2 linked regions of the Homo sapiens genome follow. The protein of the gene in region 1 interacts with the protein of each later gene in a biochemical or structural test. Each region holds a gene or a part of one and is shown on either strand. Other genes may lie near its edges.

Region 1 (16,490 bases):
TCCTGAATTTGTCATAATAGCTCACAGTTTGCTAATAGCAACAATGGTTATGCCAAATTATTCTATTTCTAGGCTTTTTTTTTGGTCAAAACATAGACTGTCAATAATAAGGAGTCTCTAGATTATATGCTTCGTTAATGTAGAATTTAAAATATTAAACTGTGTACTTAAAAACAATTGGGTAAAAAATGTGTTTTTTAGTTTAGTTTTGTTTTGTCTTAAAGGTAATTCTGTTTTGTTGTTGTTGTTTTGGGACAGAGTCTTGCTCTGTTGCCCAAGCTGGAGTGCAGTGGCATGATATTGGCTCACTGCAGCCTCCACCTCTCGGGCTCAAGAGATCCTCCCACCTCAGCCTCCCAAGTAGCTGGGACAACAGGTTTGCACTACCATGCCTGGCTAACTTGTGTATTTTTTATAGAGACAGGGTCTCACTTTGTTGCTTTGGCTGGTCACGAACTCCTGGGCTCAAGCAATCTGCCTGTTTTGGCCTCTCAAAGTGTTGGGTTTACTGGTGTGAGCCACTGCACCCAGCTCTAAAGGTAATTCTGTAAGTGGCAAAGGATATCAGTTTAAGTTACAATAATTTGACAATGTTTAATCCCTTCACCTTCCCCAATTTTATTCTCTGAAATTCTACCTCTTCTTTATTTTTGTTGTTGTTTTTTGATTTTTTGAAACGGAGTCTTGCTGTGTCACCCAGGCTAGAGTGTAGTTGCGCGATCTTGGCTCACTGCAGCATCTAACTCCTGGGCTCAAGCGATGCTCGCACCTCAGACCCCCTGTAGCTGGGACTACAGGTGTGCGCCACCATGGCCAACTAATTTTTGTATTTTTTGTAGAGAAGGGTTTTGTCATGTTGCCCAGGCTGGTCTCAAATTCCTGGACTCAAGTTTTCTGCCTGCTTTGGCTTCCCAAAGTGCTTGGATTACAGGCATGAGTCACCACACTTGGCTTCTACCTAGTCTTTAGAGCTCAGCTGAAATGCTTGTCTGTGAACCTTCCTTATACTAGTTAGAAGCCATCTCTTTCTTTCTTGAACTGTTAAGGCTTCTTGTTTTGTCTCATAGGTCATTTATTATATAATGTTCTGTGTTGGTATTATTAATTTATGTGTCCTTGGCCCTTAGTGGGTCCATCTGTTTGACAGCAAATAGTGACATATCTTCTTTTTGTACCCTGTGTGGGATCTAAGCATAATATATTTTTTCTTTTTGTGTTTTTAATATTTGATAGCAGTCAAGCTTGCAATAAGCACGGTATTTTTACATATAGCAAATGTTTCATTGATATTTGTTGAATGCACGGAGTAAGGTAGAATTTTTTATTTTATCCTTTTTCTACTTTCTATAACTTTTTCATTTGAGTTGATAAAATGATAACCGTGGTATATTCATAAGAAGGCTTATTGTCTTAGATTGAATCACTTTATGATCTTCTTTAAATCTCTCATTCAACAGTATATTTTCAAGAGTAGCATTTAGTACTTAGCCTACATTAGTGCTGCTGAAGTGGTTCACTTTATGAGTTCATAATGACATCTGTTCAGGGTTGCTGCTTTGTCCCTAAAGCCTCAGAAGCCCTCATGCTGTGGGATGACTGTGGGTTCCTCCATTCAGTCCAGTCCCTTCTTCTTTTTATTTTTCTCTGCTCCTCCTTCTTGTCCCTTATTCTTTTTTTTTTTTTTTTTTTTTTTTGAGACAGAGTCTTGCTTTGTCACCTCACCCACCTTGGAGTGCAGTGGTACGATCTCGGCTCACTGCAATCTCCGCCTCCTGGGTTCAAGGGATTCTCCTGCCTCAGCCTCCTAAGTAGCTGGGATTACAGGTGCACACCACCACGCCTGGCTAATTTTTGTTTTTAGTAGGGGTCTCACCATATTGGCCAGGCTGGTCTCGAACTCCTGACCTCAAAAGATCCGCGCACCTCAGCCTCCCAAAGTGCTGGGATTACAGGCGTGAGCCACTGCGCCCGGCCCTGTCCCTTATTCTTTAGTTAGGTCTCAGTCCTTTATTTTATTATCTATCGGTAAGAAGTTCCCTTAATTACTTTTTTTGTTTGTTTGTTTGTTTTTGAGACGGAGTCTCGCACTGTCACCTGGGCTGGAGTACAGTGGCACGATCTTGGCTTACTGCAACCTCTGCCTCCCAGGTTCAAGCGATTCTCTGGCCTCAGCCTCCCGAGTAGCTGGGATTACAGGTGCCCACCACCACGCCCAGCTAATTTTTTGTATTTTTAGTAGAGATGGGGTTTCACCATGTTGGCCAGGCTGGTCTCAAACTCCTGACCTTGTGATTCCTCCGCCTTGGCCTCCCAAAGTGCTGGGATTACAGGCGTGAGCCACTGTGCCTGGCCAATTACATTTTTTAACCTTTTGAATTTGTGACAAATACGTTTGATTGCATTTTAAATGTTCAGCTTCCTTTTAGGTAAATGAAGTGTATTCCAACTTTAATAAAGATGTGTTTACCACAAGAGGATTGTCAGATGTCTAGTTGAATAGAAACCAAAGGCAAAAAACTAATCAAATATTGCCCTCAAATCTGGCAATGGCTTTTAAATGCATAGCAGTTTCATTCCCATGTTGAAATTCTTTTGAGTTGATTCTTTCTAGGTTACGGATTTTCTCCAATGAATTCAGAGTAGTTTCTTGATATCTACTATCTTTACAAAATCTTCCTGAAGTAAGTGGGGAACTTTCATTACTTAGGGAGGTTTTTGTTTCTTACTCTGTGTGACTTATGCTAGGTTTCACAGCATTAAAGCTAGAAACAGTGGCCACATCTTCCAGTCTCAAAATCTTAACCTTAATTTATACCTCAGAAGGGTAAGGCATTCAGACTTTAGAAACTGATTTGTGTTTAGTTATATGTAGCATAGTTTTTTTTTTAGTTTTTAAAATTTTTTTTGTATTTTGAGACAGAGTCTCGCTCTGTTGCCCAGGCTGGAGTACAGTGGTGCGATCTCAGCTCACTGCAACCTCCGCCTCCCAGGTTCAAGCAATTCTCCTGCCTCAGCCTCCTGAGTAGCTGGGATTACAGGCATGCGCCTGCACGCCCAGCTAATTTTTGTATTTTTAGTAGAGACGGGGTTTCCCCATGTTGGTCAGGCTGGTCTTGAACTCCTGACCTCATGATCCACCCACCTCAGCCTCCCAAAGTGCTGGGATTACAGGTGTGAGCCATCACGCCTGGCCTAGTATAGTAGTTTTTCGGAAGAAAAAGATACTACTGGGCCAAATAAATAGTTTCCTCTCTGGCAGCAGACTCTCAGGCCAGTATATATACCTTAAAAGGTACAAAATTCCATAAACCAGAGATTTGTATTAATTCTGACCAATAAAATATTTTGACAACATCTAGTAACATATAAAGGTAGGATCTACCATTTTCTGGATATACTAATGATGTAATTTTTTTTACATGTCCCAGGTAGCTGGGATTACAGGCGCCTGCCACCACGCCTGACTAATTTTTGGTGTTTTTAGTAGAGACAGGGTTTCGCCATGTTGGCTAGGCTGGTCTTGAGCTCCCGTCCTCAGGTGATCCACCCACCTCGGACTCCCAAATTGCTGGGATTACAGGCGTGAGCCACCACGCCTGGCCTAATGATGTAATTTCTATTATAAAATAACTACTGGGCACAGTGACTTATACCTGTATTCCCAGCACTTTGGAACATTGGGACAGGAGGATCACTTGAGCCTAGGAGTTCAAGGCTGCAGTGAACTATAATTGTGCCACTGCACTCTAGCCTGGGCGACAGAGCAGAACCCTATCTTTAAAAAAAAAAAAAAAACCCTTGCGAGCTCAGCACAAAGGTGTTCTGAGTAGACATGTCAATAAACCTTACACTCATTTGAATGCCTAGTACTAAGAAGACAAAGATGCCTAGGCCAATGGTCCTGCCTCCAGGGAGTTCAGATTCCAGTACATTCATTCAGTCACGTTGGGGAAGCTGAGAAGGTGTAACACAAATGTGAAGGGTGAGAAGGACTTCTTTTAAACAGTTTCATGAAAATTACATTCATTGAGTTAGTATGCTTACGTGTGAAAAGTTTGTAGGGCTTCTTTTGGCATGAAAACAAGAAAAACTCAGAGTTTCAAAATGCCTCTATATCCTTGGGGGAATATGAGTGATGATTTTATTACCTAATCATGGAAGTGAAAAAGAAGGGCTATGCAAATTGGTGTTGGGCATGTAATTACAGAGGAATTGCATCTGAGCTCACCCATGTGTGTTCTCCTTGGCATCTGTGGCTAGGGCCAAGTTAGCAAACATGCCCTCAAAGGTATGGGGTTTGATGTTTTTGTGGAGGGTGTAACAGTTGAATGGTGGAAATTGCTTGACATTGGCTATTACAGCAGTATGAGTCTCTTTATGTTGGCTTGCTATTGTATTTTAAGACAATTTGGAAAGAGAATGAGTTGTTTTATTGAATCAAATTTATTCTGATTGGGAAAAATAGTAATGTAAATAAACTTTTGCAGCCTCCATTGATTCATTTTGTTCTGCAACAGACCTTAGGCTTATAGTCTGTCAAAATGTTGTGCAAGGGAGCAACTATTTAATTTAAATGTCAACCATGCAGCCAAAGTCAAGGAATCCATTTCTTTGGGCTCTTTTCCTTGGTGAATTTAGAGCTGAGTGGAGGTTAAAAATATAAGAAAGTTAGGCTGGGCACGGTGGATTACTTGAGGTCGGGAGTTTGAGACCAGCCTGGCTAACATGGTGAAACCCTGTTTCTACCAAAAATACAAAAATTTGATCATGCCACTGCACTCCAGTCTGGGGCACAGAGCGAGACTCCCATCTCAAAAAAAAAAAAAATTAGCTGGGCATAGTGATGTGCGCCAGCTACTTGGGAGGCTGAGGTGGGAGAATCACTTGAACCTGGGAGGCAGAGGTTGCAGTGAGCTCAGATCGTGCCACTTCACTCCAGCCTGGGTGACAGAGTGAGACCCTATCTCAAAAAAATAATAAAACAAAAAATATATATGAAAGTTAATAAATCAGTGAAGTTAGCCAGTAGGAAATGATAATATATAAGGGAACAAGTAAGAGGGACTATGGGAAGTGATATTTTTTCCAGTAATAAAAGGCATGGTTTGATTTTTTTTTTTTTTTTTTTGACATGGAGTTTGCTCTTGTTGCCCAGGCTAGAGTGCGGTGGCATGATCTCGGCTTACTGCAACTTCCACCTCTCCAGTTCAAGTGATTCTCCTGCCTCAGCCTCCCGAGTAGCTGGGATTACAGGCATGTGCCACCACGCCCAGCTAGTTTTTTGTATTTTTAGTAGAGACGGGGTTTCACCATGTTAGCCAGGCTGGTCTTGAACTCCTGACCTCAGGTGATCTGCCTGCCTTGGCCTTCCAGAGTGCTGGGATTACACGCGTGAGCCACCATGCTCGGCGACTGTACGTTTTAGGATAGGAATTTGGGCTGGAAATGGAGGTCTCTGTTGTTTGAAAGGCCTCCCTCTAGCGAGTCAGTCATGTTGAAAAACACCTTACCCACGTGAGCATGGAAAGAGGCATAACTATCTAGGATCCTTTTTCTTTTTCTTTTTCTTTTTTTTTTTAAGATGGAGTCTCACTCTGTTGCCCAGGCTAGAGGGCAGTGGCGCAATCTCGGCTCACTGCAACCTCTGCCTCCCAGGTTCAAGTGATTCTCCTGCCTTAGCCTCCCGAGTAGCTGGGACTACAGGTGCACGGCACCATGCCCGGCTAATTTTTGTATTTTTAGTAGAGACGGAGTTTCACCATATTGGCCAGGCTGGTCTCGAACTCCCGAGCTCGTGATCCGCCTGCCTAAGCTTCCCAAAGTGCTGGGATTACAGGCGTGAGCCACCACACCTGGCCTAGGATCCTTTTTCTAATACAGTTTTCAGGAAACCCATTATAATACTCTTCTCTGCTTTTGGGGAATGAAGGGAATTGCTCCTTTCTCACTGTCAGTGCCTTTCCCCCATACCACCAGGTGGACTTAAGCCACTCCAGTCCTTCCAAGTAGCCACCAATTTGCTGATTATCACTAAGATTCTAATAGCCACTTTGCTAGGAAACATTTGTAGTATCATAAGCTTTCAGCCAGTTTGGTAGATAAATTATCTGGGAAGCAATTTTATGAGTTCATGTTTTCATTTTCCTTAATGTGATTCTTCCAGTTTTAAAAGATGTTACACATAATTAGTGCATGAATTACTGCAGTGGTAGAGATGAGGTAGGAGGTTTCTGTTCTCTGCTCTCCCCGGTCTGTCACTTTTTGGAACATTTCAGATCTTTCTCAAAGCCCCAAAGTATATTTCGAGATTACTCTTCGTTTCCTTCCCCACCCCCCGCCAAATCCAGCTTTTCCCAATTTTGGGAAGACCCTTCTTATTCTTCCTTTCATCAGTGCTAGAGGGAATGCTGGAAATTTGTAAAGTGGGGTGGCATAGTAAATGGTCTGGGTAGAGTGTGTGGAGCAAGAGAAATAAATGTATTAAAAAATAATAAAATTATCCCTTCAAAAGGACTTACTGTCCATCTGTAAGGAGGCTGGCTGAAGCTGTTAGCTCCTTTAGGGTCTGCCTCAGCTTTGGAGCCTTCTGCCAGTGGTTGAGCGAAGCAGTGATTTAGAGCCTTGCCCTTTCTGCCCAGTACTAGATTCCCCTGAGTGGCCGTCTTTGCTCCCGAGCTCTCTGTTGGACAGGCTTTGTCAGGTCTGCATTGTGGTCTGATGGCTCCTCTTGCCCAATCCTGCTGCTTCTGCACTTCTTCCAGAAGTTACTTCCCATTAAACTTTTTCCATTCTGAATTCTGTCTAGCATCTGCTTCCTGGAGAATCTAATCTGCAACACAGTTCTTACATAAAACACCCTATTTCCTTCATTTTACTGGTTTTACCTCAGACTTTGTGTATAATGTCATAGGAGTATAAATGAGATGCCTGCCTCTATGTGTATGCTTTCTTTGTAGAAAATTTAGGAAATACAGATAAGCAGAAGCAAGACATTTTTAAAATTATTAATAATATTCCCACTAGAAGTAACTGCTGATAATGGCTTATTTTGGCAACTTTATTTATTTATTTAAGACGGAGTCTTGCTCTGTCGCCCAGGCTGGAGTGCAGTGGAGCGACCTCAGCTCACTGCAACGTCTGCCTCCTGGGTTCAAGCGATTCTCCTGCCTCAGCCTCCCGAGTAGCTGGGATTACAGGTGTGTGCCACCACACCCAACTAATTTTTGTGTTTTTAGTAGAGACGGGTTTCACCATGCTGGCCATGCTGGTCTCGAACTCTTGACCTCAGGTGATCCACCCGCCTAGGCCTCCCAAAGTTCTGGGATTACAGCATGAGCCACTGCACCCGGCCAGTATTTTGACAAACTTTAGAGAAGTGCGTGAGTATTCAGCTCAGTAAATTTTTTACAAACAAAAAACATCTGTGTAACCAGTACCCAATCAGGAAACAGAACTTTACTAGTACCTCAGATACCTCACTTGTAACAGCATAAATTTTGCCTCGTTTTGAACTTGATATAATTGTAATCGTATAGTATATATTCTTCTTCTTCTTTTTTTTTTTTTCTTCGAGACATGGTCTAACTCGGTTGCCCAGGCTGGAGTCCAGTGGTGTGGTCATGGCTTCCTGTAGCCTCAAACTCTTGGGCTCAAGTGATCCTCCTGCTCAGCCTCCTGGGTAGCTGGGACCACAGATGTGTGCCAGCACACCCGGTTAATTATTTTTTTGTAGAGATGGTGTCTCACTTTGTTGCCCAGGCTGGTCTCAAATTCCTGACCTCAAATGATCCTCCTGTTTTGGCTTACTAAAGTGTTGGGATTATAGGCATGAGCCACTGTGCCTGCCCATTCTTCTGTCTTCTGTTTGTTTGTTTGTTTGTTTGTTTGCTTGTTTGAGATGGAGTCTTGCTGTATTGTCTAGGCTGGAGTGCAGTGGCCAGTCTTGGCTAACTGCAACCTCTGCATCCCAGGTTCAAGTGATTCTCCTGCCTCATCCTCCCAAGTAACTGGGATTACAGGCACATGCATCACCAAGCCTGGCTAAGTTTTGGATTTTTGTTTGTTTGTTTGTTTGTTGAGACGATCTCACTCTATTGCCCAGGCTGGAGTGCGGAGTGATCTCTGCTCACTGCAACCTCCACCTCCTGGGTTCAAGTGATTTTCATGCCTTAACCTCCCTAGTAGCTGGGACTGCAGGCATACGCTACCACGCCCAGCTAATTTTTGCATTTTTAGTAGAGATGGAGTTTCACTGTGTTGGCCAGGCTGGTCTTGAACTCCTGACCTCAGATGATCTGCCTACCTTAGCCTCCCAAAGTGCTGGGATTACGGGTGTGAGCCACTGCGCCCGGCCTAATTTTTGTATTTTTTAGTAGAGACGGAGTTTCACCATGTTGGTCAGGCTGGTTTTGAACTCCTGACCTCAGGTGATCCGCCCGCCTCAGCCTCCCAAAGTGTTGGGATTACAGGCGTGAGCCACTGCATCCGGCCTTCTATCTTCTTTTGCTTAACATTATGTTTGAGAGATTTATTTATATGTATATAACCTGTGGTTCTTTGCTCTATATTTCATGGCGAATGTACCACAATTTATTTGCTCTGTTGTTGATAGACATTCATGTTGTTCTAGTTTTTTACTGCCTGGATCTCTTAATGATTCATATTTTCTATTGTAAATACTGCCTTGTATTTGGTATTTTAGCAAGTGAAGTCTATTCTTGGAACATTTACTATCTTTTTTTTTTTTTTTTTTTTTTTTGAGAGTCTTTCTCTGTGTCCCAGGCTGGAGTGCAGTGGCATGATCTCGACTCACTGCAACCTCTGTCTCCCAGGTTCAAGCAGTTCTCCTGCCTCAGCCTCCTGAGTAGCTGGGATTACAGGCACGCGCCACTACACCTGGCTAATTTTTGTATTTTAGTAGAGATGGGATTTCGCCATGTTGCCCACGCTGGTCTCGAACTCCTGACCTAAGGTGATCTGCCGGCCTCAGAATCCCAAAGTGCTGGGACTACAGGTGTGAGCCACTGCACCCAACCAAGAACTACTATATTTTGTAAGTGGAAATAACCACTATTAAAAACAGAATGCTATAAATAGAATGATGTCTTTTGTTTCTAAAGTTGATGTACTAGAGCGATGTGAAAACAGTAACAAAAGAGATATTTTGTGGCAAAGTTATCTCGGGGTAAACACCACAGTTGCAGGCACCGCTGGCAAGTATTCTCCGGGCAAACAGGAAAAAGGTTAAGTGAATCGTCTTGCATAAAAGTTTAGAAAAACTGTTCTTTCTTTTCTTTCTTTCTTTTTTTTTTTTTTTTTTGAGATGGAGGTTTGCTCTTGTTGCCCAGGCTGGAGTGCAGTGGCATGATCTCGGCTCACTGCAACTCTGCCTCCCAGGTTCAAGTGATTCTCCTGCCTCAGCCTCCCGAGTAGCTGGGATTACAGGCATGTGCCACCATGCCCAGCTAATTTTCAATTTTTAGTAGAGACGGGGTTTCTCCATGTTTGTCAGGCTGGTCTCAAACTCCCAACTTCAGGTGATCTGCCCGCCTCGGTCTCCCAAAGTGCTGGGATTACAGGTTTGAGCCACCATGCCTGGTCGAAAAACGGTTATTTCTTAACCCATATTCTCAGAATGTTATTACTTTTTGCAAGACCCAGAGTTAGTTTTTCCTTCAAAATTTGAGGTCTTAGATCATTGTTACTGGCCAAGGAGGCTAGTTGCTCTTCCCTTTGCTGTCGGTCAGTCAGATCCTTGAGTTAGAAGAATTGTTGGAGAACAAGTTTTCTGGTTTACGATTATACCAGAACTTGGCTGCCACTCTGGTTTTCAGTGAAGAGAAAAAATGTAATCAAAAGCCTTTGGGGATGGGCTTGGTATTTGAGCTGTACCTGTCGAATTAAGGTGGCTCACAAGTGGTATTGGAAAGTGCTGAAGAGCAGATTTCACACTGAGAGTGGAAACGAAATTACAAAGAGCTTGGATGTACATGCCTGAATTGTTTTTGAGCTGCTTTCAGTGGAATACTGATATTTATGTTTTACCTATTACAGCTGTTGAGTGGAATGTCATGGCCAGCTCCTCGGACAGTGAAGATGACAGTTTCATGGCTGTGGACCAGGAAGAAACTGTGCTGGAAGGGACAATGGATCAAGATGAGGAGCCCCACCCAGTATTGGAGGCTGAGGAGACTAGACATAATAGGTCCATGTCGGAGCTGCCAGAAGAGGTTTTGGAGTATATCCTGTCCTTTCTCTCACCGTATCAGGAACACAAAACTGCGGCCCTTGTCTGCAAACAGTGGTATCGACTTATCAAAGGTACTGTGGATAGGAGAAAGGTTTATTTATTGATTTCAAATTTCACTGATTTATTTTTAGACTCCAAATTTAGTTTTTTTCCTCCCTTAAATGTATTATGGTTATAAAATCTAGCATTAGACGATACTACCCGGTTTTCTTTCTTACCCTGGTTAGTTTAATGAACAGCTTGAATACTGAAGTATCTAATCCCATTTGCATTTTAAAATGAGGATTGTTTTTAAAAGCTTCATATTCTTAGAGTTGATCTGGTTAATTGTATTGTTCTTTTCTTTTTTTTTTTTTCAGACGGAGTCTCACTCTGTCGCCCAGGCTGGAGTGCAGTGGCGCAATCTCGGCTCACTGCAAGCTCTGCCTCCCGGGGTCATGTTATTCACCTGCCTCAGCCTCCAGAGTAGCTGGGACTACAGGCGCCTGCCACCACGCCCGGCTGATTTTTTGTATTTTTACTAGAGACGGGGTTTCACTGTGTTAGCCAGAATAGTCTCAATCTCCTGACCTCGTGATCCGCCCGCCTCAGCGTCCCAAATGGATTAATTGTATTGTTCTTGAATGGGCAAAATAGAAATGGATATGGGATAATAGTAATAGCCAATGTGAACATAGCTTTTATCACGTGTCAAGCACTATTGTAACTGCTTTACATTCTCACAGCAAACTCTGACTAGAAGATCCTGCATTTTATAGATGACAGAACTGAGTGAAACACAGTTAACTTATTTACACGGATAGTAAATGCAGGATTAAAGATTCACGTTCAGGCGATCTGGCTTTAAAGTCCATGCTCTTATTAAGGCTACAGATTGTCTCTGAGTAGCTACTTTTAGCAACTGCTTTCTTGAAAACATTTGTCACTTGATTTTATCTCTAAACAGCAAAGACCCTATATACATCTTTTACTTTTTAAAATATGTTTCTTGGCCGGGTGTGGTGGCTCACACCAGTAATCCCAGCACTTTGCGAGGCCAAGGCAGGTGGGTCACCTGAGGTCAAGTTCGAGACCAGCCTGGCCAACATGGTGAAACCCTGTCTCTACTAAAAATACAAAAATAAGCCAGGTGTGGTGGTGGGCACCTAATCCCAGCTACTCGGGAGGCTGAGGCAAGAGAATTGCTTGAACCCAGGAGGCAGAGGTTGCAGTGAGCCAAGATCACGCCACTGGACTCCAGCCTGGGCGACAGAGCAAGACTCTGGTCCTTTTTTTCATCCTTTTCCTAATCAAGATTTCAACTTTTTGCTAAATGTTTAGGTGCTAGACATGCTGTATTTTTAATTAGCAGAAAGCAGTTAGTGGCTTCATTGCATCTTAAGTGGAAAGGGCCCATTTTTTGTTTGAAGATGATCAATCAAGTGGAGTCATTTTTTATCAAGCGAGGGTTGTCTCAATGTGTTCTTTCCTGGGGGAACAAGGCAGCCAGAGATATAACAGAGAACAATCTTTAGATCAAAATCAATCAGTTTTAAAATGTTTTCCTTGCATCAAGGTGGTTCTCATGGAGTCCTTGTCAACTCCCAAAGTCCACCTAGAGGGCTAAGAACCAGCTGTATTGAAACTGCTCTGTTGGCCCTGTGCTCATTTGATTATAACTGCCAATACTGGCACACACAGCCTGCTTCTATATTCTGAGTTGATGGGCTCTTCAGGAGAGATTGGCTCCCTGCAATGTGGAAATACATGGTTTCACTTCTCAAATAAAGGGAGGAAAACCACAGGTAAGGGACTGTGATTTAATCAAATATATGAATTTATCCTTAGGTTTTCTTTGGCAGTCTTATTTTGGTTTTCTTTCTTTTCTCTTTCTTTCTTTCTTTCTTTCTTTCTTTCTTTCTTTCTTTCTTTCTTTGTTTTCTTTTCTCTTTCTTTCTTTCTCTCTCTTTCTTCTTTTCTTTCTTTTTTTTTTATTTTTATTTAGAGAAGAACCCTACCCTAGTACTCACAATCTTAGATCGATCTTTCTGGCAGAAGTCACTGACAAGATAGTTTTGTTTGTTTGTTTTTAATTTTAGTAGACTTTTTTTTTAAAGAGCACTTTTAGGTTCACAGCAAAATTGAGTAGGAGAAACAAATTCCTCTGAGCGGACACAGTGGAACACGCCTGTAATCCCAGCACTTTGGGAGGCCAACGTGGGCGGATCGCCTGAGATCAAGAGTTCAAGACCAGCCTGGTCAACATGGTGAAACCTCATCTCTACTAAAAATACAAAAATTAGTGAGGCATGGTGGTGGGTGCCTGTAGTCCTAGCTACTCGGGAGGCTGAGGCAGGAGAAACGTTCAAACCTGGGAGGCAGAGGTTGCAGTGTGCCAAGATCGAGCCACTGCACTCGAGTCTGGATGACAGACAGAGATTCTGTCTCAAAAAAAAAAAAAAGCAAAACAAAACCGATTTCTCATATATCCCCTACCCTGACACATGTATAGCCTCTCCCATTATCAACATCCCCCACCAGAGTGGTACATGTGTTAAAATTGATGAACCTATACTGAAACATTCCATAAACCCAAATTCCATAGTTTACATTAATGTTCATGCTTGGTGTTGTGCATTCTATGGGTTTGGATGAATGTATAATGACACATATCCACTGTTATAATATCATAATAGCTTCACTGCCCTAAAAATCCTGTATACTCTCCCTGTTTATCCTTTCCTTCCACCAACCACTGGCAATCACTGATTTTTTTACTGTCTCCATAGTTTTGCCTTTTCTAGAAGGTCATATAGTTGGAATCATACAGTATACAGCCTTTTCCGATTGGTTTCTTTCACTTAGTAATATTTGCATTTAAGTTTCCTCCTTATTTTTTGAGACAGAGTCATGCTCTGTTGCCCAGGCTGGAGTGCATTGGTGCGATTTTGGCTCACTGCAACCTCCGTCTCCCGGGCTCAAGTCATCTTCCCTCCTCAGCCACCAGAATAGCTGGGACCACAGGTGTGCACCACCATGCCTGTGTAATTTTTTTAAAAAAATGTTTATAGAGACAGGATCTTGCTGTTACCTAGACTGGTGTGAAACTCCTAAGCTCAAATGATTTTCCTGCCTCAGCTTCCAAAAATGCTGGGATTACAGGTGTGAGCCACCGTGCCCGGCTTCCTCCATTTCTTTTCATGATTTCTTAGCTTTTTTTTTGTTAGTGCTGAGTAATATTTCATGTCTAGATGCACCACAGTTTGTTTACCCATTCACTTACTGAAAGGGCATCTTAGTTGCTTCCAAGATTTTACAATTATTAATAAAGCTGGTGTAAGCATCCATGTGCAGGTGTTTCTGTGGACATAAGTTTTCAGCTCCTTTGGGTAAATAAATACCAAGATGCACAATTGCTGGATCATATGGTAAGAGCATCGTTAGTTTTGTAAGGAACTGCCAAACTGTTTTAAGTGGCTGAACCATTTTGTACTCCCACTAGCAGTGAATGAGAGTTCCTTTTGCTCCACATTCTCACCAGCATTTGTAGTAGTAGTTGGAATTTTCATCATTCTCATAGATGTGTAGTGGTATCTCATTTTAATTTGCATTTCCCTGATGACAAATGATATGGAGCGTATTTTCATGCGCTTATGTGTTACCCACATACCTTCTTTGGTGAAGTGTCTGTTTCAGGTCTTTGACCCATTTTTTATTTTATATATACATATGTATATATATATATATATATATATATTTTTTTTTTTTTTTTTGAGACAAGATCTTGCTCTGTCACCCATGTTGGAGCACAGTGGCATGGTCATAGCTCATTGCGGCCTTGACTTCCTGGACTCAAGCAATCCTCTCGCCTCAGCCTCCCAAGTGGCTGGGACTACAAGTGTGTACCACCACACCCAGCTAATTTTTGTATTTATTTATTTATTTTTGTAGAGATGGGGTCTCACTGTGTTGCTCATGCTGGTCCTGAACTCTTGGGCTCAAGCAATCTTACCACCTGGGCCTGCTAAAGTCCTGGGATTATGAGCCACCATGCCAGGCCTTTGACCCCCTTTTTTTTTTTTTGAGACGGAGTCTCACTCTGTCGCCCAGGCTGGAGTGCAGGGGCGCGATCTCGGCTTATTGCAAGCTCCGCCTCCTGGGTTCATGCCATTCCCCAAAGTGTTGGGATTACAGGCGTGAGCCACCGTGCCCGGCGTTGACCCATTTTTTAATTGGGTTGTTTGTTTATTAATGTTGAGTTTTTTTGTTTGTTTGTTTGTTTGTTTTGAGATGGAGTCCGGCTCTGTTGCCCAGGCTGGAGTGCAGTGGCACAATATTGGCTCACTGCAACCTCCACCTTCTGGGTTCAAGCAATTTCCTGGCAATTTTTGTATTTTTAGCAGAGACAGGGTTTCACTGTGTTGGCCAGGCTGGTCTTGAACTCCTGATGTCAAGTGATCCACCAAATAAATAAATAAATAATATTTAATTTATTTGAGCACCTGCCCAAAGTGCTAGGATTACAGACGTGAGCCACCGCGCCTGGCCCTAATATTGTTGAGTTTTAAGAGTTCTTTGGATATTCTATATAACTGTCTTTTATCAGATATGTCTTTTGCAAATACTTTCTCTCAGTCTGTGGCTTATCTTCTCATTCCCTTGACAGTATTTTTCACAGAGCAGAAACTTTTAGTTTTAATGAATTCTGGCTTATCAGTTATTTTGGGGAGGGGATAAGGTCTTGCTTTGTCACCCACGCTGGAGTCTAGTGGCGTGATCAGGGCTCACTGCAGACTCAACCTCCCAGGCTCAAGCAATCCTCCAAATTCAGCTTCCCAAATAGCTGGCACTACAAGCACATGCCACCATACCCAGCTAATTTGTTTTTCTTTTTTTTTTTCAGATGGAACCTCACTCCATCACCCAGGCTGGAGTTCAGTGGCGCAGTCTCAGCTCATTGCAACCTCCACCTCCTGGGTTCAAGGAATTCTCCTGCTTCCACCTCCCAAGTAGCTGGGATTACAGGTGCATGCTACTACGCCCGGCTAATTTTTTTTTTTTTTTTTTGAGATGGAGTCTTGCTCTGTTGCCCAGGCTGGAGTGCAGTGGTGTGATCTCGGCTCACTGCAAGCTCCTCTCCCGGGTTCACGCCATTCTCCTGCCTCAGCCTCCCGAGTAGCTGGGACTACAGGCATCCACCACCACACCCGGCTAATTTTTTCTATTTTTAGTAGAGACGGGGTTTCACTGTGTTAGCCAGGATGGTCTCGATCTCCTGACCTTGTGATCTGCCTGCCTTGGCCTCCCAAAGTGCTGGGATTACAGGCGTGAGCCACTGCGCTCGGCCAATTTTTGTTTTTAGTAAGAACAAAACCTTTTTTAGTAGAGTAGGTTTTACCATGTTGACCAGGCTGGTCTCAAACTCCTGACTTCAAGTGATCACCCACCTCGGCCTCCCAAAATGCTCGGATTACAGGTGTGAGCCACTGCACCCGGCCACACCCGGCTAATGTTTTAAAAAATACTTTGTCGAGACAGGGTCTCCTTGTGTTGCCCAGGCTGGTCTTGAACTCCTGGGCTCAAGTTATCCTCCCACCTTGGCCTCCCAAAGTGTTGGGATTACAGGCGTGAGCTACCATGCCTGGCCATTCTTTCTTTCATGGATCATGCCTTTGGTACTGTGTATAAAAAGTCATCCCCAAAGTCAAGGTCTTCTAGATTTTCTCCTGTTATCTTCGAGGAGTTTTATGTTTTACATTTAGGATTGTGATTCATTTTTAGTTCATTTTCATGGAAGATGTCTAGATTCATTTTCTTGCATGTAGATTTTAATTTATTTCAGCATCATTTTTGGAAAAGGTTTTTTTCTTTAAGAGATGGGGTTGGCCAGGCGCGGTGGCTCATGCCTATAATCCCAGCACTTTGGGAGGCCAAGGTGGGTGGATCATGAGGTCAAGAGATTGAGACCATCCTGGCCAACGTGGTGAAACCCCATCTCTACTAAAAATACAAAAAGAAAAAAAAAATTAGCTGGGTATGGTGGCGCGTGCCTGTAATCCCAGCTACTTGGAAGTCTGAGGCAGGAGAATCGCTTGAATCTGGGAGTTGGAGGTTGCAGTAAGCCAAGATCGCGCCACAGCACTCCAGCCTAGGTGACAGAGTGACACTCTGTCTCAAAAAAAAAAAAAAAAAAAAAAAAAAAAGAGATGGGGTCTCCCGGCCTGGCATGGTGGCTCACGCCTGTAATCCCAGCATTTTGGGA
Region 2 (15,900 bases), on another chromosome or scaffold:
CTGTTTCCTGAGTAGCATTTGCTCTGCTTTTTAAAAGGAAGATACAGGAGAGGCAGTTGAAGAAACTTGTTTAGCTTAATTTTAAAGTGGAATGTTGATCCTTTAAAAAATATAATTCGATACTTTAGATACTTATGCTGTGTTTCAGCATCATTTATCTTATCTGGAAAAGGACAATAATTTAGACCCCTCCCTGATTCACAGGGATCAAGAGAATAGGAAAGATTTTAGAATTGTTATATATAATATAAGCAGTAGCATTTTGAAGGGTCTTTGCTGTTTGTAAAGTGCTATATCTCTTTATCTTTTCAGTTATCAGAATTTAAATTCTGGTAAACTGACATAATGCCTTGAGCATTTTCTCTAGTACCTTTAAATTCAGTTCTTCTGGTGATACATATGAATCGTCCTTTTGGGCAAAGTTAACCATTTTAAAAATAGTTCTTTAAAGTAATGCTTATATAATCTCTTTCTGGTTTAAGATATTTTATAATCATCCAGTTTGTCTATCATTGTTTTCCTCAATCTTATAAGTGATTACTCTAGTGTTCAGCTATATAAAGAAAAATATTTTATGCACTATTTTGAGAAGAACTACTGCTAAAATCTTTTACATAATTTCTTGAATTCTGATAGCTTTATTATTATTTTTTTTTTGGAGAAAGTCATTGATTTTTTTTAACTGTAAAATTTATTTTAAAAGTTACTGCTGTAACGTTGAGTGATAATTCCATGATACAGTTGTAGAGCTATGTAAAACAAGAAAAGGCTGTTTTTTTAAATGGTCTTTTAAAGAGGATACAATAGATGACAATGTTTGTGTTCTACAGACTTTATAAGGAAGACTTTGTACTTTTCCGAAATCAATTTCAGTAATTTTTATAGTTGATAATTTTTAGAGTTGGTTTTATCAGCTATCCCTTGGAATTGTTTTACTTATTACTTAAACCATGGCCATTCTGAGTTTTAGGTACTACATAAACAAACAAGGTTTTGCTGCTGTTAAAACTTTACTTTTCTTTCACAGAACTATTGCACAGCCAAAACATTGTATATATCTGACTCAGACAAGCGAAAGCACTTCATGTTGTCTGTAAAGATGTTCTATGGCAACAGTGATGACATTGGTGTGTTCCTCAGCAAGCGGATAAAAGTCATCTCCAAACCTTCCAAAAAGAAGCAGTCATTGAAAAATGCTGACTGTATGTATGCTTTTCTTATTTATCCCCAACTGCCACCATGAATTAATAAGACAGACTCTTTTTTAAATTAAAAATTGCCTTTTCAATAGCCAATTAATTCTTTACTAATATTTTTGTGGCCCTCTTTATTGTCTCTCTTTTTTTAATCGTAAATCGACAGTATGTGGTCTAATGAAGCAGTTCTTAACCAGAGTTGGTTCCTTAATGCTCCCAGGGACATTCTGGGGAAATGGGAGATTTTCTCCTTCTGTTGTTACAGTGACTGGAGGGGGTGATGTTGGCTTTGGGTGTCTTGAGCCTGTGGTGCTGAATTGAATGTCCTGCAGTGTCCAAGGTAGTTCCCATTCCACAAAGAATTGATCTACCCACAATGTCAACAAGTACCCCTTTGAAAAACGCTACCAACTAAATGGGCTTTGGCAGGCCTTCCTGAGAATCTAAACACAATTTTTAATGTGGTTGCTCTGGCAGAGACTGCTGTCTCATCAGCCTATTTTTAGACTACCAAACAAGTATGTTTGAATTATAAATTTAACCTCCACACCCATTTTTCTTTTTTTAACTTTTTATTATGGAGACTTTTCTTTTTTTTTTTGAGATGGACTCTTACTCTGTCGCCCAGGCTGGAGTGCAGTGGCAGGATCTCAGCTCACTGCAACCTCCACCTCCCGGGTTCAACCAATCCTCCCTGCCTCAGCCTCCTGAGTAGCTGGGATTACAGGTGCCCACCATCACGCCCGGCTGATTTTGTATTTTTTAGTAGAGATGAGGTTTCGCCATTTGGCCAGGCTGGTCTTGAACTCCTGACCTCAGGTGATCCACCCACCTCGACCTCCCAAAGTGTTGGGATTGCAGGCGTGAGCCACCATGCCTGGCTGAGACTTTCAAATTTATATAAAAGGGAGAAATTAGCCACCCAGCCTCAACAGGTTTTATCAATTCTGTTTCATTATCTCCATCACCACCAACACCTCTTCGTCTTCTAATTGCTGGAGTATTTTAATGTAAATCTCATCCTATCCTTTCAACCAAAATTTCTGCAATAGTGACTAATACATGCCCTTTTTTTTGAAACATCATTATACGTAACAGTTGACAGCAGCTCTTAAGTGTCATCTAATATCCTATTTCATGTACAGATTTATCAGATTGACCCAGAATGTCTTTTTATAGTTTTTTTGCTTTGTTTTGTTTTACAGTGGTTTGTTCAAACATGGATTCAGATAAGGTCCACACATTTTAGTCTGTAATAGTTTCTTCTCACCCTCTCTCACCTTTGTTTTCCTTCTATGTCATTTATTTGTTGAAGAAACTGGATCATTTTTCCTGTTGTGGAATTCCATATTCTGGGTTTGGCTGATTATATGTTTCTCTGTCTCTCTTACTTTCCATGAACTGGTGGTTAGACATAAAGACTTTCAGAACTGATTGGTAAGATATACATTTATTTCCATTGGATTGGAAGTCATAATATCTGATTATCCCCTTTTTTTTTTTTGGTCATGTTGAGATTGATTATAGTAGTTCAGCTGTTGTAAGTCTATTCCACCCATAAAGTTCCTCAGCAAACTTTAACCTAATGGTTTTAATAGTCATTGATGATGTTTAAATCCATTTCATTAAATGCTGCAAAATGGTGATATTCTAATTTTTTAAATTCTAACTTCTGCATTCGTTAGCTGGAGTTTTTTCTACAAAGAGGGACTTTGCCATATCAGCTATTTGCTTCAATTGTAATATGTAATGAAAAGGCAGGATTAGGTGCTTGTTTACTCATTTGCAGAATAATAACATTCCTTGAAAGTGACCAGTGGGGTTTTAGGGTTTTTGTTTTGTTTGCTTTCTTTTCATTTTGTTTTATTATGAGATCATGGTTTTTGTTGTGGTTGTTGTTATTGTTGTTGTTTTGTATTGGTTATATTTTAGTCCACTCAGTCCACTAATATCACTTAGTTTTTATTACGGAAAAATTTCAAACACTCTCAAGTAGACAGAGTTGCACCATACAGTGAAACCTCTTATGTTCATTCTCTAACGTCAACAGTGATCTTAACATTCAACCAATCTTATCTTCATCTATACCTGTACTCCAGCCCCACTTTCTTCTGCCCTTATTTTAGTTTGATGCATATCCAATCAGTGTTCAAATTTAAAATGGTCTAAAATATTTTAAAAATCAGATTGCTTGAATCAAAATTCAGATCTACCACTTAGTACAGTTTATATTGTGATATGTCCTTGAGTATAATCTATGGACACCCCCTCAACTCTTGCAATTTATTTAAGTAAGTTGAAACATTTAGTCACTAGAGATTTCCACGTACTAGATTTTGCTGATTTCATTTATTTGGTATAGTTTAATGTATTTTCTGTAAATTGGTAGAGTCAAAAAGAAATAGAGCGTGGGCCTAGTTGGAAAGACAGATTTCATTCAGTACTATTGCAATAGGGGAAAATAGAACCAAGTTCCATTTCAGAATACAACAAAGACACTTGGGGATGAAGCAGAGTGAGAGGGTCAATGGATGGAAACTTTCTAAAAGGAGACATCAAAGGTAGAAGGTTTCTTTCTGACCTGACTTAGGATTCCTGCTAAAGGCAGGCCAAGGTGATCATAGATCCAGAGTGGGAGATAGTTTAGGAGGATTCTTACTATATATAACTGAGCTAAACAGACTGATGACGGGGCTCAAGGACAAATACTAGTTGATTGCTCAGAGCAGCCTGCTTAAAAGTATGGTCAAGGAGAGAATCTTTAGTGTAGAATGGTGATCAGATTTAAGTTTGTTGTCCTTTGGTTCTTGTTTTCTTTCTGAAAAGCAAGACCTGCTTCAAAGGTGGTGGTGTGCTCTCTTGCACTAGGAGGTATATTATGTCTTGTATTCAGGCTATTTGCATTTCAGATTACACAGTTTTATGTAACTGCTTTAACTTTGTGTTTGTACTGAATATTAGTTTCTTGATGGCAGAGAACATATTTCACTTTCAGAATGTTTTTCTGCTTACATGGATTTATTTTCAAGAAATTTCATACAATACTTTATTTAGAAGAAAGCAGAATTTTCTGAAATCACAGTATGCAGAGGCATTTACCATCAACTCTGACAAACATCCTTCTGGTCCCTTTTCTATGCATGTATTCTGTGGAATTGGATGCAAACACATATTAAAAATATATACATTTGCCTAATGGAACCACAGCATACAGAGTATTTTATAGTCTGCTTTTCCATTCAGTGATATTCCAGGAAAATATTTTCTTATCAGTGTGTTTAGATACACATCCTTTCAATAGGTCATCATTTAAATTTCTACTGTCTAACATTATTTTAAAAGTAAGTTTTTCTCTAATAATCAGCACCACATTAAACATACTGTGTAGCTTTCACTTTAAAATTATTTTTATGGACATTTGATATCATTAGCTTGACATTATTAATAACAGTTACCTTGACTTTTTGATATCATCTGTACTGTCTTGGAAAGTGAAAATATTTGTCAAACTGTTAAATGATAAGAAAGAATAATTATACACTGCCAAGCAGAATTTCCTTCTTTTGCTCCCTCCCCACCTTCTGCTCCAATCACATAAATAAGAGCTGTTTTTTCTTTGCAGTATGCATTGCCTCAGGAACAAAGGTGGCTCTGTTTAATCGACTACGATCCCAGACAGTTAGTACCAGATACTTGCATGTAGAAGGAGGTAATTTTCATGCCAGTTCACAGCAGTGGGGAGCCTTTTTTATTCATCTCTGTGAGTATAAAAGTGTGCATTTAATGTTTTTAGTGTGAAATTGTTAAAATCTTTTGATGAGATACATGGATATATTAAGTTTTGTCATTTGCCTAATCATAAAATAAATTTAAAAAGATGACAATTTGATTTATTTTTCCACCTACTGCAGTGGATGATGATGAATCAGAAGGAGAAGAATTCACAGTCCGAGATGGCTACATCCATTATGGACAAACAGTCAAACTTGTGTGCTCAGTTACTGGCATGGCACTCCCAAGATTGGTATGGCTCTACTTTTGCTTTAGTGATAATGTGAAGTAAAAATTAATTTCTTAAACAGGAAAATCACAACATTCAAATGGAAAAACACACCTCAGTTTTATGCTTTTTAATTTTAAAAGGTATGTTAGTAATCAGTGCTGTTTATAATTGACAGTTATGCTCTACCTTATTTCAGAAATGCTTTAAGGTAATAGCCAGTTTTTACAAGTACATTCTTAATGATTTTTTCTTAAATGATTTCCAATATATTTTGGTGGCAATTTCCTTTTTGGCTGTTTATCTGAAGATGTTCAGTAGAGGGCACTATAAATTACATTTCTTTTCTTTACTAATGCGGATAAACCGTATTCATTTTTTTGTGGTACCTGCCATATCCCAATGTAGGACCAAGTTTGCAAACAGAAGACATTCTTATTTCTTTTGAAATATAAGCGTAATTTTTGTTAGCTTACTCTCTCACAAGAAGATAGATTTATTAAAACTGAAATAAAATTGGTATTTCTAACTGGGAGCAGGGCATAGGATTTAGGGCTTTTGTTCAATAGAAGACATTGAAACTCGGCCACGCATGGTGACTCACACCTGCAATCCCAGCACTTCAACAGGTGAAGGCAGGAGAAGGAGAAGTGACTAGCCCTGGCATCACTTGAGCTCAGGAGTTCGAGACTAGTCCTGGCAACATGGTCAGACCGTCTTTACCACTGACCCCGCCCCCCCAAAAAAAAAATTAGCCAGGCATGGTGGTGCACACCTGTAGTCTCAAGCTTAAGTGGGAGGATCACTTGAGCTCGGGAGGTCAAGGCTGCAATGAGCGGTGATCGTACCACTGGACTTTAGCCTGGGCAACAGAATGAGATCCTATCTCAACAACCACAGAAAAGGAGATCTTGAAATTGTAAAAACTACTTTTGTTAGTAAAATGAAAACAAAAGTCCTCTATAGTGCCACCACCCTCCCAATTTTCCCTCTCCTTTTCTCAAACAATATAATTTACTTATATTCAAGATGAAGGGGATTTATGAGTAAGTTTGATTCAAGGTCAGACTGAAGAGGTTGGGTGAGTAGAAGAACATTTAGTATTAATGTTCCTAAACATGCCTCCTATTTATCTTTTTGGTGCAATATTCCACTGGCTTATATTTTCTGGGGTCATTTCAGCAGAGGCTGGTTTGATCTACAGTTTTCTAAGCCAGTGATTCATTTCTTTGTTACTGTTTTTTTTTTTTACCCTCTGTCATGATTGTACAAGGTGATTTTATTTCCCATGTCAATGCAATAAGCTAGAAGACATGAAGTATAGTAATAGTAATCTGTAAAGCTTTGCAGCTGAGACAAATTATAATAAAAAGGGTAACGTTAGGGAATGAAGGGCATGAAAAACAGAGCAGGAGACAGAAGCAAGCAAAAAATCTGAATCAGCATTTATTCATTTTTTTTCTCTTCTCATTCATTTCCTCTGTTCCAAGGATGATGTTCATTTGCTTTGGTGTTAAATGCTTGTACTGCAGAAGCACAACTTAGGAGGATGATTCTGATCACCAATAGTTTATAATACAAACCACTTAGAAGACAGACCCAAATTTAAAACAATGTTTTCATTTACAGTTGTTTGTAAAGTACCAGTAGCCTGCCTTGCTTGAAAGTCATTAATTGAGGTTTTTACACTCAAAACTGTATGGCTTTATATAAAAATGTTGCAATGAAAAATTAACTTATTAGAAAAAGTTGCAGTACCATTATTAAGACGCTGATACATAAATCTTTCCAGGGGTTTCATGACAGGAATTCTGACATGCAAAGTCGAGTGCCTCTCGTCATTGAGTTTACATTTTGATAGAGTGATAAGCCAAATACCCATGTAAAGGATTTATGTAGTGATGAAAAAACAAAACAAGATAATAAAGGGATAGAGAATTGGAGGAGCGCTTAGAGAGGTCAGGGAAGTCTTTTTGAAGTCGCAGTATTTGAAGAGAGCCCAGAATGAAGTCAAAGAACCGGTAATTGAGTGAGGAGCATTTCAGGCAAACAGAACAAGTACAGAACTGAAGGCAGGGGATGTATGATGACTAGTAAAGAAACCAGTGGAGCTGGAGCGGAGGGAGGAGAGGTCAAGTGGCAGGAACTGAATCTGTAAGGTTAGCACTAAGCAAGACCTTGTAGGATCCCTCTCTGTATCTAGGGTAAGGACTTCATATTATCTCTGCATGTTAGAAGGCCACTGGAGGATTTTAAACGGGGCACGATGGCCTATTTTTGTTTAGAAGTATATGTGTGGCTGCTGTGTGGAGAAGAGAGCATAGCAATGCGGCCGTGGAAGCAGAGAGACAGGTGCTTGGATTGTTGTCATAATTGAGGCAAGAGTTGATGCTATCTTAGACCCAGGATCATAGTATTAAGGTGGTGAGGGGTGACTGATTTGTTGGAAAGTGGACCTGACAGAATTTGCTGGCAGATTGGATGGTTGGGTGTGAGAGAAAGCAAGGCATCAAGGGTGACTCTTAAGGTTTTTGGATTGAGTGAATGCTAGTGCCATTTATTGACCTAGATGAGTTGGGGAAGGATCAAGTTTAGGAGGAAATCCAAAAATCTGTTTTCGATATGCTAAGCTTGAGGTGCCTGTTAGACATCGTAAGTGGAAATGTTGAATAGGTAGTTAAGTGTACATACAAGTTGAATGCAGGAGAGAAGTCTGGAGATAATAAATTTGGGAGTTGTCAACCTTTAAATTTTTAAACAGTATAGATTATAAAGAGAGGAAAAGAGGGCTGAGAACTCAGCTCTGGGCATTTTAAAGGTCAGTTGGAGCAGTTGTGGTCCTGAAAGCAAAATGTGTTGAGAGCTTCTGAGAAAATGAAGTAAAATGAGGACAGAAAAGTGCCGTGAGATGCATCTGTCTGGAAATCCTTGGTGGCTTTGAAAAGCAGTTGTAGTGGCGTCTTTGAGATAAAAGGTTGGAGAGATTGCAGGAGATTGGACAGTGAGGAAGAGGCGTTTGCAGAAAAACAGGTAGTGAGAGGGAGGGACAGGAGCATGTAGTCAGTGTTTTCTTTACTTTTGATTTTGAGATGAGAGATAGTTATGTTTGTATGTTGTTGGAAGTGATCAATAGAAAAGGAAACAGAGTAAAAGTTCTGTGTCAAATTTTGCTCTTCATCATGATCATCTACTTAGCCATTACCTTCTAGGTGTCAAGTGTCATATAGGGTTTGATAGTATTATCTTTCAGATATTCATGTGTTTTGTAGACTAGTTGCGTTATAAGCTTTAGAGATCAGTTGGACAGGCAGCCAGCCCTGGGATCAGGACATATTCTGGTCCTTCAGCTACTAAACTGGTAATTTTGAGCAATTTGTCTGACCTTTCTAAGCCCATTTTGTAATCTGTAAAATGAGTTTGATTTTGTTATGTTTTTAAATACGTAAGTTTTGGATAATAGATATAAGACGTTTGCACTGACAGTAGCCTTCTAGAGATTTTTCCCTTTGATGTTGGAGTATTTGTCATTTTATGCATATTATTGGAAAATATCATTAGAACTTGCTGTTCAAAATATGGTCTGTAGGCCAGCAGCATTAACATCAACTGGGATTTTGTTAGAAATGCAGAATATCAGGCCCCACAAGAGTCCTGCTAGATCAGAACCTGTGTTTTTCACAAGAACCCCAGCTCATTTATGTGCACATTAATGTTTGAAAAACACTGATCTAGAAAACAAGTGCCTGCCTGCCTGATTTTTTTTTTTTAGATGTTCAGGGAAGAGGGTAACAGTTTCTACATTCTGACATGCTTGCAATCTAAAAGTGTTTTTTATTCCTAGTCTTTTTGTTTGTGAATGTTTTTATATATGTAGGCATAGGACAAATAACTGTGATGTATTATTATGCAGTATATAGCTTCTATGTACTTTTGATGTTTTACACAAGGAAAATCCTTTCCATGTGTGGATGACCTTTTATTTCTTAATTGTTAAATATAGATAATTAGGAAAGTTGATAAGCAGACCGCATTATTGGATGCAGATGATCCTGTGTCACAACTCCATAAATGTGCATTTTACCTTAAGGATACAGAAAGAATGTATTTGTGCCTTTCTCAAGAAAGAATAATTCAATTTCAGGTATGTTTTTAAATTACTGGTGAAATCTAAAATGTACAAACTGTGAGGTTAGCAGCTTGCAAAAATATGAAATTTTCATTTGCTGTTAATTATATACAAATACATGAAGCTATACACAGATATTTATCTCAGGTATGAGCATCCTTAACACACAATCCTCAGACATGCAAGCAATCCTTCCTCAAGGAAGAACTCAAAATTATGAAAATGTTCTCAGAGAAAACAGTTAACATCTAGTTCCAGGGTTCTTAATTGAAGAACAAAGAGCCCCTCAGGATATCCAAAAATAGATTTTCAGTGCTCATTGAATCCTCTGAAATTGTGTGCAAACATTGTATAGACAAAGCATTTTTCTGGGTGAAGGCTCAAAATCTCATCAGATTTATGTCGTGGTTTCCGAAGATAGTAATGATGACATGCTTTGAAAGCTAATGTTTTACATTTACTCAGAAGGCTTTCATGAGGTTATGACATGGGCAGATGATTTAATAAGACAGTTATGGTTTCATGTGAAACTCCTTTGCAGAGAGATGCCCATACACACTGATGGGCATGCTGAGTCCCTGGTCTAGGTGTGTTAAGGTAGGGGTAGGGGCTTTGCCTTCCCATCTTGATTCCCTCCCATGGAACATGCATAAGCTTCTAGCTGTTGCCTAAGCATGAGGAGTCCCATTGTCTTTCTTAGGAGTCCTTGAAGAGTTTTAAACAGCCATTTACATCACAGATATTGATCTGCTGTTAATGAAATTGTACCTGCATTGGTATACTCATAATGGTTGTTCTGAAAGGTATTATTATTTAATATGTCACTGAAATAGTTTGTATTATAAGAAAAACTGCTGTCTATGGGGTTTCTGTATTAGCATTCTGTTTGTGTTTATGTAGGGATTGGCAAAGCACCATACTTTAGAAAGTTTATAAGTTTTTACTGAGTTATCTTCTTATTAACTCTTGTCTGAGGGTTACTTGGTAAAATTTTCTTATCCTATTAATACAAACTGTATAAAACTTAGTTTCTAAACTTCTTTCTTTATTAGGCCACTCCATGTCCAAAAGAACCAAATAAAGAGATGATAAATGATGGCGCTTCCTGGACAATCATTAGCACAGATAAGGCAGAGTATACATTTTATGAGGGAATGGGCCCTGTCCTTGCCCCAGTCACTCCTGTGCCTGTGGTAGAGAGCCTTCAGGTGAGAACGCCTAGTCCAAGTTGGCCTTCAGCTCTTTGCAGCTACTCTCAGCTGTGACCTGGCATCATTTCATTTCATGGGAGTTTTGATTTTTCTCCAATCGTCTGATTAGGGGATTTTTATATACACCATTTGTTGATTTAAAGAAAAAAAAACAAAATTAGGAGGAGCGTACTTGCCAGAAAATTTAAATGTAAATAAACTTGTATGTTATCTTGAAATGTTTTTAGCTAGCTTTGTAATAAAAAACATTTTAATTGCCCTTTTTTAAAAAAAACAAATGAAAGTTGAATGAGAATCTAATTTGTGTACTTTAATGAAAAATGAAAAGTTTTCTCAGTGTTGTGATTTTCTGTGAATTGCAGTTGAATGGCGGTGGGGACGTAGCAATGCTTGAACTTACAGGACAGAATTTCACTCCAAATTTACGAGTGTGGTTTGGGGATGTAGAAGCTGAAACTATGTACAGGTACTTGATAAAACTTTTTGCATCATCCAGAGGTTGTGAGGGGTGTGGGTACAGGAGATTCTTTCCTGGCACTGATTGTAATGTATTAAACAACCTTGTGTTAAGTCTCATTTTTAACATGTACTTTGCTTTTTAAAGTGTTTTTAAGTGATTTCTATTTCCTCCTCAGGTGTGGAGAGAGTATGCTCTGTGTCGTCCCAGACATTTCTGCATTCCGAGAAGGTTGGAGATGGGTCCGGCAACCAGTCCAGGTTCCAGTAACTTTGGTCCGAAATGATGGAATCATTTATTCCACCAGCCTTACCTTTACCTACACACCAGAACCAGGGCCGCGGCCACATTGCAGTGCAGCAGGAGCAATCCTTCGAGCCAATTCAAGCCAGGTGCCCCCTAACGAATCAAACACAAACAGCGAGGGAAGTTACACAAACGCCAGCACAAATTCAACCAGTGTCACATCATCTACAGCCACAGTGGTATCCTAACTACCGTCTTTTTGCTAGGACTTAAACTGACTTGAGTGTGGCAAAAAGTTAACAAAAAAGGAGAAAAAATGAACAATCGTTTGTGGTTTCTTGGGAAAACTTTTCATACCAGGTGATACTATTCAAAAACCCCGTTGTCTCCCTGCAAGTGCTGATTTGAAATGCAGAAGCCACAGTAAAAAAAAAAAAAAAAAAAAAAAAAAAGAAAAAAAAATCAAAATGTATAAATATTGGAAATCAAGTTTTTCAGCTGTTTTGTTGGTTGGTTGGTTGGTTTTTGTTTGGTTTTGTTTAAATGGGCAAGAAGTAAATAATGTGGCTGGAATACAAGTTGAACAAACTAGAAGACACAAATCTAACATAGTTTTTATGGACCAAGGAACTTGTATATTGTATAAGCTTTAGTAAAAGGTACATTTTCACCATACCTTTTTTTATATCACGGTATTATAGTACACCTTGTTACCAAATAGGTTGTTCTCTTCCCCACCCACCTTTGAGCTTTTGCTCTAAAATACATTCAGGTTCCAAGCCTGACCATCCTTGTTTAATCTATCATACTCTTCCAGGTTTTTTTTTTTTGGTCTAAGGCTGGAACTTTTTTCTTTTTTTTCAGCTGAAGTCTTATGACTTTTCATGAGTCAAAATTGTTTGGATTTCAGCAAGTCAAATCTTGCAAAGGCCTGCATATTTTTTTTAAGATTATATGAAGTCTGTGCAAAAGCTTTAAAAAAATGCCTCTGCCTTGCCTGCAATACATGCAATGTATGTTAACTTAGTCTCTCTTCTCAGACACTGTTGGTAGTTATTTCTGTGTTTTCCTTTTTTTAAAAAAAAATATGGACTTATTGTGGTTATCTGAGAGGTTCTAACATTCACATGCAATTTGGTGTGGCCATTTAGCTATTAATGAGTTAATGGCGCAGAACTTGTTGATATTTGAAGTGTTCTCTCCCCTTTTCCCATGACGTAAATACATAGGTGTGTTCCAGGATTTGTTCAGGTTTTTCCCCCCTCCTAATCTTGTACATAACTTGTATTATGTGTAAGTTAAACATTTTATTTTGAACTTGGAATGTTCCCAGTGATTTCATTCAGCAGGGTATTTTCTGCCTTGTTGGCAAGTGACAAAAAATATGGGAAGTATTTGCTACCAGTTGGTAGATGGTGCCCTTAATGGTAGAATGAGGAAAATGTCCGCAAAAGCATGTTTTATTATCTTTACTTTTTTGGGGGGTTGGAGGGGGTAGCCTAGCCAGAACATCATTGTAATCTTAAAACATAAGATGCTTTTATTAGATGATCAACTAAAATAGCTGGAAGACAGTACTTTAGAAACAGATAGTTGTAAGATTATAAAATGCAAATGTAACTTATGTTTTCATTTTTTTCTCTGCCTTTTTTGTTTGTTTGTTTTCTCTTTTCCAGTACTGAGCATCTCCACAAATGTCTCCTAACTCAGAAAATGTTTCTTTTCTTTTCAGTTGAGATTTGGTTGCATTCAGGGTTGTAGGTTGGCCTTGCTTGCTAACCCCGCCGGTTTTACCGTGCTTTCATTCCTGAACTTTGTTTATGCCTTTGTTTGGTTTCTTCGAAATTGCAGCAGACTCATTGGGCTACATTTAGTACAGGAACCACGTGTGTAATGTTATACAACACAGTCTAGTAATACAATCATCCCTCTTAGAGTAAAAACTACCTCTAGATTGTGGTAAGCTTTTACTGTCCCATAAAACAGGAGCCACAGTACCTTATGAATGCAAAACTGTAACTTCCTACAGTGTTTCCCTACAGAACATTGTCTTTCTGGTGTCCTGGGCTGTTTTGAAAAAGTTTCCATTAATAGACTTTTTAGAAATTATTATTAGTAGCATTTTTTTTCCAGCTTTGCTGTCTTCATCACTCACTCTATGCTCAGACTATGCCACTGTAAATATTCTTCCTAACATCTTTAAATCGCCTTTTCCTCAGTTTTCAAGGGGAAGGTCATTTGTAAAGCACGTTAGGTGGTTAAATCAGTTATTGCGGTTTTCTCTTACTGCAAGCCTTTTTAATCACCCCCAGGCTGCATTTTATTCTATATCGCCTTTTTTCTTCAAATCTGCTCCAATCACTCACTTCTCTCTTATAAGCTAATCCTGCCTCACACCTTAAATCTGTTTCAGTGATCAAGGGCAGAACTCATTGTGGCCTTATCTTTCTTTGTTGTAATTGTTCACTGTCTCTTTCTTACAGACCACTTATTTCTGAGTAGTAGTTATTCCTCTCTATGGAGTCATGGCAGGAATCATTACACAGTGCTTTTGTTCAGAGCATGGACATGTTCCTAGTGCTGCTTTGCTTTAACGGCCACAAGTTTCCTCCACTTCCTAGGTTTGGTATTTAGTTAAGGAATCATATTAAATTAACCAATAACAAAAGAGATACTTTTGAAGAACAAACTATTCCTTACCCATTTTTGTAGCTCAAAAATAATTTTTCAAGTTCATGACCTTATTAAAATGAACTTGTGTTTTTTTAACAAACATGTATGTTTTATTTTGATAGTTTCTTTCCGTAAGATAATTGAAATATTATACTGTAAACCCTTTTCTTTTCTTTTTTTGAAAAGTCCAAGAATGTACTTATACAGGCATTTTTCCCCACCTATTTTTGGCCATTCTCATACCACAGACTAAAGAGTGAAATGATTTGTCCATTGTAGCTTATTGTTTATCAGTAGTTCTTTTGTCAGCTGCTTACATTTTTTCTTTCATGGTTTTGTGAATCATTTTCAGTATGTAATTTATAGGAACCTTGTCCTCTGGTTATAGTAGACTGTGTGCCCTCCTCCAGTGATGGCATTATTAGACATGCTGGTCATTTACCCTCAGAAAGACTCTCTTATTAGAATGGTGAGTGCTTCAGTTATAGTATGTTTGAATTTTTAAAAAATTCTGTTTTAGAAATGTATCTTATGCTCTCATGACTATGCAGTTTCTAAACATACACATAGAAGCTGAGTCTCTGATCCAATATGTTTTTATTTGTTCCATTTAATTTATCACATAGATTGGGAAGGCAAGCTAAAAGCCTTAAAAATGCCCTTTATATTTTGAGTGATTTCAGCGTTGAACACTAGTATACTATCTAAATTTGCTGCTCACTTTCTTTAAACTGTGGCAATTAAAGGCATGTTTATACATGACTTAATCGTGAAATGTTTGTCACTCTTACTGCACAGACTTATCTGCAATCATAACTGGTTAGTTTTTTTGTTTTGTTTTGTTTTATTGTTTTTAATGAAACTGGTACCATCTGTGCTTTCACAAAAAACTTCCAATGCCATTTTTGAGAACTAACCTAACTAGTCATGCTAACCAGAAAATCCACTGGGGAGGAGGTTCCTTTTGAAACAAAATGCTGTTCAGTTAGTAACCAAGTTACTTTGATTGCAAAAGCAGCTGTGTTTCTGATAAGTACTGAACAAATGTGTGTAATTTTCTGTGCCAGACTTATGACTTTGTTTTCAAGCACTGTAATGTGGGATGGATGGTTAGAAACAATAATATATTAGGGTTTCTGTTTAACCCTTTCAGGACTGAACTGTATCTCCTTTTGTTAATTTTCCCCTGTGTTGTGATAAATGTTTGCCAGCATTCAGTACTGTGTTGGTCCAGATGTAGGTTTATATGCTCATTTTTAGCTTATTTCTTGTACCTTGCAGCATGCTCTACGCATTCAGTCCTTAAGGGGTTTATTTTACAAACTGTGCGCCTGTAAGGTTTATTAGCAATAAGATAGAAAATTGAGCAAGTTTATACCATAATTTTGTAGAAAAAAAGAATCTGCTCAGTTCCATATTTCATCCGTGAAAAACTTGCAATACGAGCAGTTTCAAGGAATAAATAAAAAGGAAATGTAAACCATTGTAAAAGTCTTCTGTCGAATGTGCCTGATGCATGTATTATCGTCTTTTATTTCAGAATACTTCATAAAGATAAAATTAAATTCTATATTATAGTTGGTGTATTTACAATCTTACCATGTACATCACATCAAAGTGATAGCTCTACTAATTTAATTTCCTTGTCAATGTTTTTAACTATATAGTGCTTTAAAGAGATTTTTTTTCCCTGTGTAAATGGTGAAATGGGCTTTGTCACTCAAGGGTCATATCTCTCAAATCAGAATCATTTAAAGCTGATTGCAACAAAATTTGAGAATATTACTTAGCAATAACTTACTTTTCCAATATAAGATGGTCATTTTGTCTGCTATAGGAAGGAACACATAATCGTTTGCCTTTGAGGGGTGGGGGTGGGTCCTAGAAGTGGGGATAGTATTCTTTAATATGAAACAAAGTTAAATGGGGAAGTTACATAAGTTTTTTTTTTTGAGACGGGGTCTTGCTCTGTCGCCCCTGAGCTGGAGTGC

The links.
Region 2: the proteins of FBXO42 (region 1) and RBPJ form a complex in vitro, tested with the Homo sapiens proteins (one study listed by BioGRID).

Annotation. Positions count from the first base shown.
Region 1 is NC_000001.11:16,308,999-16,325,488, reverse strand, and holds part of FBXO42 (F-box only protein 42), read left to right. Parts: intron 1-8,761; exon of another isoform or gene 8,762-9,052; intron 9,053-10,053; 5' UTR 10,054-10,070; coding exon 10,071-10,320; intron 10,321-16,490. UniProt on the Homo sapiens protein: Substrate-recognition component of some SCF (SKP1-CUL1-F-box protein)-type E3 ubiquitin ligase complex. Specifically recognizes p53/TP53, promoting its ubiquitination and degradation.
Region 2 is NC_000004.12:26,419,524-26,435,423, forward strand, and holds the end of RBPJ (recombining binding protein suppressor of hairless), read left to right. Parts: intron 1-1,027; coding exon 1,028-1,202; intron 1,203-4,818; coding exon 4,819-4,956; intron 4,957-5,107; coding exon 5,108-5,220; intron 5,221-9,196; coding exon 9,197-9,337; intron 9,338-10,374; coding exon 10,375-10,530; intron 10,531-10,895; coding exon 10,896-10,999; intron 11,000-11,168; coding exon 11,169-11,484; 3' UTR 11,485-15,400; downstream 15,401-15,900. UniProt on the Homo sapiens protein: Transcriptional regulator that plays a central role in Notch signaling, a signaling pathway involved in cell-cell communication that regulates a broad spectrum of cell-fate determinations.